Regions from separate parts of the Homo sapiens genome. Here region 2 is linked to region 1. Evidence: fine-mapped expression QTL. A gene starts in region 1. The other region holds a variant in brackets. All regions are shown on one strand. Distances are between the middles of the regions.

The links. PIP is the estimated chance that this variant, and not a neighbour inherited with it, causes the effect.
Region 2: its variant is the best candidate, but not a certain one, in a credible set for the expression of TICAM2-AS1 in tibial artery (GTEx, PIP 0.85).

The regions. Positions count from the first base shown.
Region 1 is chr5:115,599,486-115,604,866 of GRCh38, forward strand. TICAM2-AS1 (TICAM2 antisense RNA 1) reads left to right here and starts at 2,670. Exons shown (of 3, transcript NR_109875.1): 1 at 2,670-2,975; 2 at 3,561-3,671. The region is part of intron 3 of TMED7-TICAM2 (TMED7-TICAM2 readthrough); the gene reads right to left. TICAM2 (TIR domain containing adaptor molecule 2) reads right to left here and starts at 2,994. Exons shown (of 2, transcript NM_021649.7): 1 at 2,612-2,994. RefSeq lists enhancers at 2,316-2,395, 2,344-2,866 and a silencer at 2,486-2,985.
Region 2 is chr5:115,649,926-115,655,306 of GRCh38, forward strand. The region is part of intron 3 of LOC102467217 (a long non-coding RNA gene); the gene reads right to left. Among named protein-coding and RNA genes, the nearest start is that of TMED7-TICAM2, 27 kb to the left of the region's middle. The variant C/T (reference allele first, on the strand shown) is at 3,086.

The DNA of each region.
Region 1 (5,381 bases):
ATGGTTGTGCATTTTTAATATTAGGGAACTCAAGCAACCAACAATGTTTTAAAGGTTCCATAAGCTTCATGGAATACTAGAGAGTAGCATTCAGTATTTAATAGCAACCTACCGCACAGGCCCAGCAGCAAAAGAGATCTTGCTGCAATAGCACAGTAACCCCTGAGGCAGCATGCTAACAGAGAAGTGAGGGAGTACAGTGTGCAATGGTCTAGCAGACACCAGCTGCAGGCAAAGGCAACAGCAGCACAATCAGTGTTACTACAGTGGAGTGGATGAGAGGGAAGTCAGGAGATGAGTTCAGAGAACTAGTCAGGGACTAGATCACACAGGGCTTTAAAGCCATTGTAAGCCTGTTTTTCTTTTCTTTTTTTTTTCTTTCTTTTTTTTTGTGATTCTGATAAGAAGCCACCAGAAGGTTTTGAAGGGAAATGAAAGTTCTGAGTATGTATGACAAAAATCACTGCTATTTGGAAAAGACTGTAGAGGAGCAAGGGCAGAGGCAGAGACTTCTCAATCATGTAGGTAGGAGAGGACTGTGGCTTAGCTTAGAGAGGGAGAGAGAGGTGGGCAGATCTGGGTAGAGTCAACAGATTTTGTTGGATGCTTGGATGCGGAGTCTGACCTAAAAAGAGAAGTCAAGAGTAAATTCCTAGAATTCCGGCCTACTTGAATGGCAGTAACTGAGGCTGTTTATTGAGATAAGGGAGGGAGCTGAGGGGAAACAGAGGGAGAACTTGGTGAATCTGGCATCAGTAGTTCTATCTGTCCATACTAAATTTAAATGCCTATCAGACTTCCAAGTGGAGATGCTGAGTAAACAGCTGGACATACACATACATCTGGAGCTCAGAAGCGAACTAAAGCTAGGAATAAAATTTTGGAAGTCATCAGCTGATAGATATTATTTATAGCCAAGGAATATGGCTTGGGATACAAATTGTCCTGGGGGAAAGTATGGCTAGAAAAATATGGCCAAGAAATGAACTCTGTGGCATACTAAGATTTAGTGGTGGGGAAGCCTGGAGACACAATGAAGCAGAATGAAATGCAGAATATGGTGACCTGGAAGCCAAGTGAAGAAGAAAGAATATTAGTGAAGAACATTAGTGAAGAAAAAAGAATATTGAGGAGGGAGTGATCAAATGTTACTGAGGGGTCAGGAAAGATGAGAACTGTGCACAGACACTGGATTTCACAAGACAGTCATTGGCAACATCAGGACCATGCAGGGGGTAATGGGGACAAAAAGCCTCAGATGAGAGGGGGTAGGAAGAAACAGGGAAAATGAAAATGGAGACTTAGATTAAATCTTTCAAAGAGGATTTTTGTTTGTTATAAAAAGAAGCAAAGTAGGGGAGCGGGACCTAGAATGGGATGTGTGGTCTAGGGGGGATTAAAGACAGAAGATTTAACAGCAGATATTTGTTAAATGAATACATTTTAAGAATAGCATAAGGAACAAATGACTCAACACAGATGCCCATGATTCAACAGTGTAAACATGGTTTATACTTCAAGTTCCATACGGTAAGGCGTACATGTCACATTTACTTTGCTTCAAATGTAGGTGTCAATATTCTATACCTGCTTATCTATTTTCTGATTTGAATGAGATATAAAGTGGAGTTGCTTAACTCCATTTATAACCATCCTACTACTTCAAAATATTAAAATGTAAGGATTGATGGGCTGATAGGTGCAGCAAACCACCATGGCACACGTTTATCTATGTAACAAACCTGCAAGTCCTGCACATGTATCCCAGAACATAAAATTAAATTAAACAATAAAAAAATAGAAATACAGATTCTGGAAATCAAGCTTACCAAATTAAACCTTCAGAGGTGGGGGGATGCATTTTAAACAAAAGTCCCAAATGCGTCTTACCATCAGGCTTGTTTGAAAAACACTAATCTAAGGAATACTAAACACTTGGAGAAGGACAAGTTCTTCTCCTGTGTAGACGTGCAATGTGGGTTCAGGGGATGACACTTCAACTCTATATAATGGTGTATTTTTACCTCCAGATCATATAGCCTTTCCCACCCTTGCTTTTCAAAATTAAAAGGATAAATTAAAAAATAATAATAAATATGAGAATATTTTAAAATACTTTCTTTAAGAAGTTTACTACCGTGGAAAGCTGGAGAGGTCCTAATACACTGAAAACTAGCTCACAGCTGCCAGTCAAATTATTTTTATCCAAATTAGCTTTGCACAAAAAGCCAAGTAGGAAAACCCATGCCAAAACCTCCAGCACTGGCTCTGTGTGCCTGGCAGGGGCTCATGCAGAGCCTTTAGAGCATTTAAGACTCTGGGCTATTTGCTTATGGTTCTGAGGTGTCTTTTCGAAAATGGGTTTTCTAGTCAAAATGAAACAAAAAGGCAGACAGCTGTGTGGATTTTCCCTTCAGAGTAAGCCAAGTGACGGAAAGGCCTGCCCGCCCCGCTGGGGACAACAGCGCCAGCACCCGCGCCGTCGGGTCGGGTAGGCTGGGGAGGTAGCGCAGGCGGCCTGGCCCCCAGACCACCCCGCGCCCCTGGCGGCCTGGCCCCAGCCCACCCCGCGCCCCCGGCGGCGGCCCCCGCCCTAGCGCCCGGTACTTGCCTGCAGGCGAGCGCCACCACAGTCAGCCCGCGGCTTTTCTGTCTTCCTTTCTGGCCCAGCGAGAGCGCCCAGGGGGTGGGCGTCTTGCCCCGGGCGTCGAGAGTTTGGGGCCGTCCCGTACGCGGCGCGCCGCAACCCAGTCCCCGCGACCACAGCAGCCTGCTCCCCACCGCGCTTGCAGAGCCCGGACGCGCGTGAGTCGGGGGCCCGCAGAGGCCTCACCCTTGGAGGTCGCCGCTTGTCAGGCCTGACTGCTGTTGGCGCCCACCCCGCCGCCCCCGAGGGGCCGCTCGAGGCCGGACTGCTGCTTTGCCGTGGCAGGCCCCACCCGGGACGTGGCGCTGCGGGCCGGGGCGGTCCAGCTGTGAGTCAGGGGTTAATGTGGCGGGATAACTCTCTGCAGAGGGAAGGAGCTCGCAAAGAAGGGTGGAGGAGGGGAAACCGCAATGGGGAACTGTCACCGAGGCTAGTGGACTCTCCCTGCGCTTTTTTTTTTTTTTTTTTTTTTGGCATGTACCCCAAAAGCCAGAGGTCGAGGCCCAGAAAAATCTGGAAAGGAATTCCACCGTGTTTGCTCCTTACAGACCAGACAAACCGTAGATCTTTCAGAGGTACAGCGACTCTCCTGGTTCCCTAAGATAGTCTCGACTTTTCCTTTCCCTTTGCGGCCCTCTCACTTGACTACTGCAGCCAACCATACCCCTGATTAGGGGGTGCAGCACATCAGCCTCTGCCCCCAAAAACTACCCTGCGAAAGATCCTTTTTCTCAGGTTCGTTCTCCACAACCGAACAGATTGGAACTCCACTGAATAAGAGAGAACAAAAAAGCAATTAGTTAAATGAAGCGTAAAGAAGCCTTATAAAGCCCCATTGCTGCCTCAGGCACCCAATCTAGTCATAACCTAAGAGGTCCAGTTCAGAAATCTCCCCTCCCCTTTTAATTCTCAGGCAATCCCTACTCCCTGCCAAAGGAGAACCCAGTTACTGAACATCGGATGAGACCATGGATAGTAAATTGGGAGTGAAGGTCCATACCTGGGTCTCAGAAGCACAGTACAGGTAAAGCTAAGAGTTATTTCCTCCTTCTCTTTCCCCATCCAACAACAGGATGCCTTACTGAAGGTAGGCACTTCAGGTAGTAATTACTTAGTGAAATGCCGCCAATGTAGTCAGAAATACCGTATTATGTACCGTGTCAACACAATTCATTATTCACGGAGTTGATTCTCCAACCACTGCACCTCCCAACAATTCTACCTGAACTCTTTGGGTAAGCAGTGGCCTCCTAAATCCAACTGATACTTTTGTTGCCCTCATTTTTCCTGGGAGTCTCTTTGGCGATTGACAAAGTCGACCATTGTTTCCCAACACTCTGTTTCCTTGATGTTGACAACCCCACTTTGCCTTTATGCTCATCCTGCTTGTTAAAATTCTTTCAGGCCTGTTGGGAGGCCGAGGCGGGTGAATCACGAGGTCAGGAGATCGAGACCATCCTGGCTAACACGGTGAAACCCCGTCTCTACTAAAAAATACAAAAAATTAGCCGGGAGTGGTGGCAGCTGCCTGTAGTCCCAGCTACTTGGGAGGGTGAGGCAGGAGAATGGCTTGAACCCGGGAGGCGGAGCTTGCAGTGAGCCGAGATCGCGCCACTGCACTCCAGCCTGGGCCACAGAGTGAGACTCCGTCTCAAAAAAAAAAAAAAAAAAAAAAAATTCTTCTTTCAGTTTCCTCTGCCTGTTCCTCTTTCTCTGGCAACCCTTCAAAATCAGAGCTTTTCACATTTTCCCACTGAAATACCACCAATGACAGATTCCATAAACACGTACTTCCCTATTCATCACTTAGGTTGCATACATAAAAGAGCCTGAAGTCACTAGTGTCATGGGCAAATTTACTTGAACTGTTCCATCTTCTTGTAAATTGCTCCAAATTTTGCATTGTTCTTCATAATACAGTCACATGTACTAAAAAAAATCTTAAATTGGTTACAAGTTTAATTGCTTAACATTTTCTCTCCAAATGTTCAAGAAAATGCATCAATCACTTACGCCACATATGTTTAGAATATATTCTATGTGCTAGACATTAGGGATATTGTGCGAACAGGAGACACAGTCCTAGTTCTCATGGAGATTTTATAGTCTAATCTGGGAGACAGACAGATATGTAAAGAAGTGAGACAATTTCAGATCCGTGCATTGCTAATGGGGACAGCGAATCTTCCTAGTGGGCAATTTCTAGCTACATACCTGGTTATTCACATTCAAGAAAGGAGGGGACGACATGACAAACTGATAAATATACTGACTTACAGGCAGTGTCTAATGGATTGTCCAGCTTTTAGGTTCTTGGAAAGAACAAAATGGAAAATTTGTAAAAGATCTGTCCGTGAGACTTACAGATAACCCTCTTGGAGTGGTGAGGGCATGTGAAGATATTCATATCCCCCATAAGTGCCTAACAGGATGCATCAGGTGGAGAAGATTTTCAATAATAAGCGGAACAAGATGAATTGTCTGGTAGATGTCAGTCTTTTTCTCCAGCCAACCCAGGGCTTGGTTAATGGGCCCATGTACCAAGTGGCTATCAAAGCAGTGACAGAGGTTCAATAGTATGGTCTTCTCCTTACCTACATTATTTGGCTACTATCATTGCCGAATGCCCAACCTGGCAACAACGTGGAGTGTGACTACATTTCCAAGGCTGGGTTCCTAATATGGCATTACTGTCAATGAGACTTGCTGGCAACCCGGTAACATGATGGTTACA
Region 2 (5,381 bases), 50 kb after region 1:
TTTGCATAAATTGACAAGCGGATCCTAAAATTCATATGGATATGTAAAGAACTTCAAATAGCCAAAATAATCTTGAGAAAGAAAAACAATTGGAGGATTCACACTTATCACAAAACTCACTACACAACTACAGTAATCAAGACATAAAAATCAAGACATTAAAAATAGACATACAAACCAATAGAATGGAATTGAGAGGCCAAAAATAAAACATTACGTTTACAGCCAATTGTGCTAAGACAATTCAGTGGGGGAAAGAGTAGGCTTTTCAATAAATGGTGCTGGTACAACTAGATGAAGCTGAGACCCCTTCCTCACACAAACATAAATGAACTAAAAATGAACTATAGATCTAAATGTAAGAGCTTACACTATAAAACCTTCATGAGAAAGCAAAGGTGTACATTTTCATGACTTTTGATTAAGGAATCTTTTTTTTTTTTTTTTTTTTTTTTTGGAGAAGGAGTTTCACTCTTGTTGCCCAGGACTAGAGTGCAGTGATGTGATCTTGGCTTACTGCAACCTCTGCCTTCCTGTTTCAAGTGATTCTCCTGCCTCAGCCTCTGGAGTAGCTGAGACTACAGGCGCCTGCCACCATGCCTGGCTAATTTATGTATTTTTAATAGAGATAGGATTTCACCATGTTGGCCAGGCTGGTCTCGAACTCCTGACCTCGTGATCCACCCATCTCCGCCTCCCAAAGTGCTGGGATTACAGGCATGAGCCACCACGCCCAGCCTAAAAAATGGTCTTTTAAATATGAACAAAAAGCAGAAAGCAACCAAAGAAAATATAAATAAATTAAACTTCAAAGTTAGAAGTTCTTGTGCTTCAAAGGACACTACAACAAAAATATAAGGTCAACCCACTGAATGTGAGAAAACATTTGCAAATTGTCAGGCCTCTGAGCCCAAGCAAAGCCAGCATATGCCCTGTGACCTGCACGTATACATCCAGATGACCTGAAGCAACTGAAGATCCACAAAAGAAGAGAAAATAGCCTTAACTGATGACATTCCACCATTGTGATTTGTTCCTGCCCCATCCTAACTGACATGATATAGTCTCCCCTGCCCTTAAGAAGGTGCTTTGTAATATTCTCCCCAGCCCTTAAGAATGTACTTTGTATGCCTATCCCAAACCTATAAGAACTAATGATAATCCTACTACCCTTTGCTGACTTCTTTTTTGGACTCAGCCCGCCGGCACCCAGGTGAAATAAACAGCCTTATTGCTCACACAAAGCCTGCTTGGTGCTCTCTTCACACAGACGCGTGTGACATTTGGTGCCAAAGACCCGGGACAGGTGGACTCCTTTGGGAGATCAGTCCCCTGTCCTTGCCCTCACTCCATGAGGAGACCCACCTACAACCTCGGGTCCTCAGACCAACCAGCCCAAGGAACATCTCACCATTTCAAATCAGGTAAGCGGTCTTTTCACTGTTCTCCAGTCTCTCTTGCTACCCTTCAATCTCCCTGTCCTTCCAATTCCAGCTCTTTTTCCTCTCTAGTAGAGACAAAAGAGATACATTTTATCCATGGACCCAAAACTCCAGCGTCGGTCACGGACTCGGGAAGACAGTCTTCCCTTGGTGTTTAATCACTGTGGCGATGCCTGCCTGAATATTCACCCACACTCCATTGATGTCTGATTACCGTGGGGACGCCTGCCTTGGTCATTCACCCACATTACCTCAGTGGCAGGTCAATTGCGGGGACACCTGCTTTGGCTGCTCATCCACATTGCAGCCCAGGGCTGCTCACCGCCCCCCACTGCCCCTTCTCCGTGTCTCTACCTTTCTCTTTAAACTCACCTCCTTCACTATGGGCAACCTTCCGCCCTCCATTCCCCCATCTTCTCCCTTAGCCTGTGTTCTTAAAAACCTAAAACCCCTTCGACTCACACCTGACCTAAAACCTAAACACTTTATTTTCTTCTGCAATACTGCTTGGCCCCAGTACAAACTCGACAGTAGTTCCAAGTAGCCAGAAAACGGCACTTTTGATTTCTCCATTTTACAAGACCTGGATGATTTTTGTCGAAAAATGGACAAATGGTCTGAGGTGCCTGACGTCCAGGCATTCTTTTACACATCAGTCCCTCCCTAGTCTCTGTTCCCAATGTGACTCATCCCAAATCTTTCTTCTTTCTCTCCTGTCTGTTCCTTCAGTCTCCACCCCAAGTTCTGAGTCCTTTGAATCCTTCTTTTCTATGGACTCATCTCACCTCTCCCCTTCTCGCCAGGCTGCTCCTCACCAGGCCGAGCCAGGTCCCAATTCTTCCTCAGCCTCTGCTCCCCCACTGTATAATCCTCCTATCATCTCCCCTCCTCACACCCGGTCTGGCTTACAGTTTCGTTCCACGACTAGCCCTCCCTCACCTGCCCAACAGTTTCCTCTTGAAGAGGTGGCTAGAGCTAAAGGCATAGTCAAGGTTAATGCTCCTTTTTTCTTTATCCGACCTCTCCCAAATGAGTTAGCATTTAGGCTCTTTTTCGTCAAATATAAAAACCCAGCCCAGTTCATGGCCTGTTTGGCAACAACCCTTAGACACTTTACTGTCCTAGACCCCAGAGGAAGGCTGTCTTATTCTCAATATGCATTTTATTACCCAATCTGCTCCCGACATTAGAAAAAGCTCCAAAAATTAGATTCCAGCCCTCAAACCCCACAAGAAGACCTAATTAACCTCCCCTTCAAGGTGGTATACAATAATAGAATAGAGGCAGCCAAGTGGCAACGTATTTCTGAGTTGCAATTACTTGCCTCCACTTTGAGAGAAACCCCAGCCACATCTCCAGCATACAAGAACTTCAAAACGTCTGAACCACAGTAGCCAGGTGTTCCTCCAGGACTGCCTCCCCCAGGAGATTGTTTCAAGTGCTGGAAATCTGGCCACTGGGCCAAGGAATGCTCGCAGCCTGGGATTCCTCCTAAGCCATGTGCCAACTGTGCAGGACCCCACTGGAAATTGGACTGTCCAACTCGCCCGGCAGCCACTCCCAGAGCCCCTGGAATTCTGGCCTAAGGCTCTCTGACTGACTCCTTCCCAGATCTTCTTGGCTTAGCAGCTGAAGACTGATGC[C/T]GCCCGATCTCCTTGGAGGCCCCCCGGACAATCACTGATGCCGAGCTTTGCGCAACTCTTACAGTGGAGGGTAAGGCCGTCCTCTTCTTAATTAATATGGAGGCTACCAACTCCACATTACCTTCTTTTCAAGGGCCTGTTTCCCTTGCCTCCATAACTGTTGTGGGTATTGACGGCCAGGCTTCTAAACCTCTTAAAACTCCCCAACTCTGGTGCCAACTTGAACAACATTCCTTAATGCAGTCCTTTTGAGTTATCCCCACTTGCCCAGCTCCCTTATTAGGTCGAGACATTTTAACTAAATTATCTGCTTCCCTGACTATTCCTGGGCTACAGCCGTACCTCATTGCCGCCCTTTTCCCCAGTTCGAAGTCTCCTTCACATCCTCACCTTGTATCTCCCCACCTTAATCCACAAGTATGGGATACCTCTACTCCCTCTTTGGCAACCGATCATGTGCCCCTTACCATCCCATTAAAACCTAATCACCCTTACCCAGCTCAACGCCAATATCCCATCCCACAACAGGCTTTAAGAGGATTAAAGCCTGATATCACTTGCCTGCTACAGTATGGCCTTTTAAAGCCTATAAATTCTCCTTACAATTCTCACATTTTACCTGTCCAAAAACCGGACGAGTCTTACAGGTTAGTTCAGGATCTGAACCTTATCAACCAAATTGTCTTGCCTATCCACCCCGTGGTGCCAAACCCATATACTCTCCTATCCTCCACACCTCCCTCCACAACCCATTATTCTGTTCTAGATAAACCTAGCTGACCCCATAAATCCTAAATCCTTCCCCTACTCCCCTTTCCATTCCTTAAAAAACAGCCCTAAAAGCTGCTCTCACACTAGCTCTCCCTAACTCATCCCAACCCTTTTCATTACACACAGCCGAAGTACAGGGCTGTGTGGTCAGAATTCTTACACAAGAACCGGGACCGCGCTCTGTAGCCTTTCTGTCCAAACAACTTGACCTTACTGTTTTAGCCTAGCCATGTCTGCGTGTGGCGGCTGCCACTGCTTTAATACTTTTAGAGGCCCTCAAAATCACAAGCTATGCTCCACTTACTCTCTACAGTTCTCATAACTTTCAAAATCTATTTTCCTCCTCACACTTGATGCATATACTTTCTGCCCCTCAGCTCCTTCAGCTATACTCCCTCTTTGTTGAGTCTCCCACAATTACCATTGCTCCTGGCCCAGACTTCAATCTGGCCTCCCACATTATTCCGGATACCACACCTGATCCCCATGACTGTATCTCTCATCCATGTGACAGTCACTCCATTTCCCCATATTTCCTTCTTTCCTATTTCTCATCCTGATCACACTTGGTTTATTGATGGCAGTTCCACCAGGGCTAATTGCCACTCACCAGCAAAGGCAGGCTATACTATAGTATTTTCCATGTTTATCATTGAGGCTACCACTCTGCCCCCCTCCACTACTTCTCAGCAAACCGAACTCATTAATCTCTCCCACTCTAGGTTCCCATGCTGCCCCTAATCCCTTTCAAAGCAGCCCTGAGAACATCACCCATTATCTCTCCATACCACCCCCAAAAATTTTCGCCACCCCAACACTTCACCACTATTTTGTTTTGTTTTTCTTATTAATATAAGAAGACAGGGATCTCAGGCCTCTGAGCCCAAGCAAAGCCATCATATCCCCTGTGACCTGCAGGTATACATCCAGATGGCCTGAAGCAACTGAAGATCCACAAAAGAAGTGAAAATAGCCTTAATTGATGACATTCCACCCTTGTGATTTGTTCCTGCCCCACCCTAACTGATATGACATAGTCTCTGCCGCCCTTAAAAAGGTACTCTGTAATATTCTCCCCTGCCCTTAAGAAGGTACTTTGTAATATTCTCCCCTGCCCTTAAGAAGGTATTTTGTAATATTCTCCATGCCCTTAAGAATGTACTTTGTACGCCTATCCTAAACCTATAAGAACTAATGATAATCGGGCAGGCACGGTGGCTCACGTCTGTAATCCCAGCATTTGGAAGGCCGAGGTGGGTGGATCATGAGGTCAGGAGATCAAGACCACGGTGAAACCCTGTCTCTACTAAAAATACAAAAGAAAAAAAATTAGCCAGGCATGGTGGCGGGCGCCTATAGTCCCAGCTACTCAGGAGGCTGAGGCAGGAAAATGGCATGAACCCGGGAGGCAGAGCTTGTAGTGAACCAAGACTGAGCCACTGCACTCTAGCCTGGGCAACACAGCAAGACTCTGTCTCAAAAAAAAAAAAAAAAAGAACTAATGATAATCCCACCACCCTTTGCT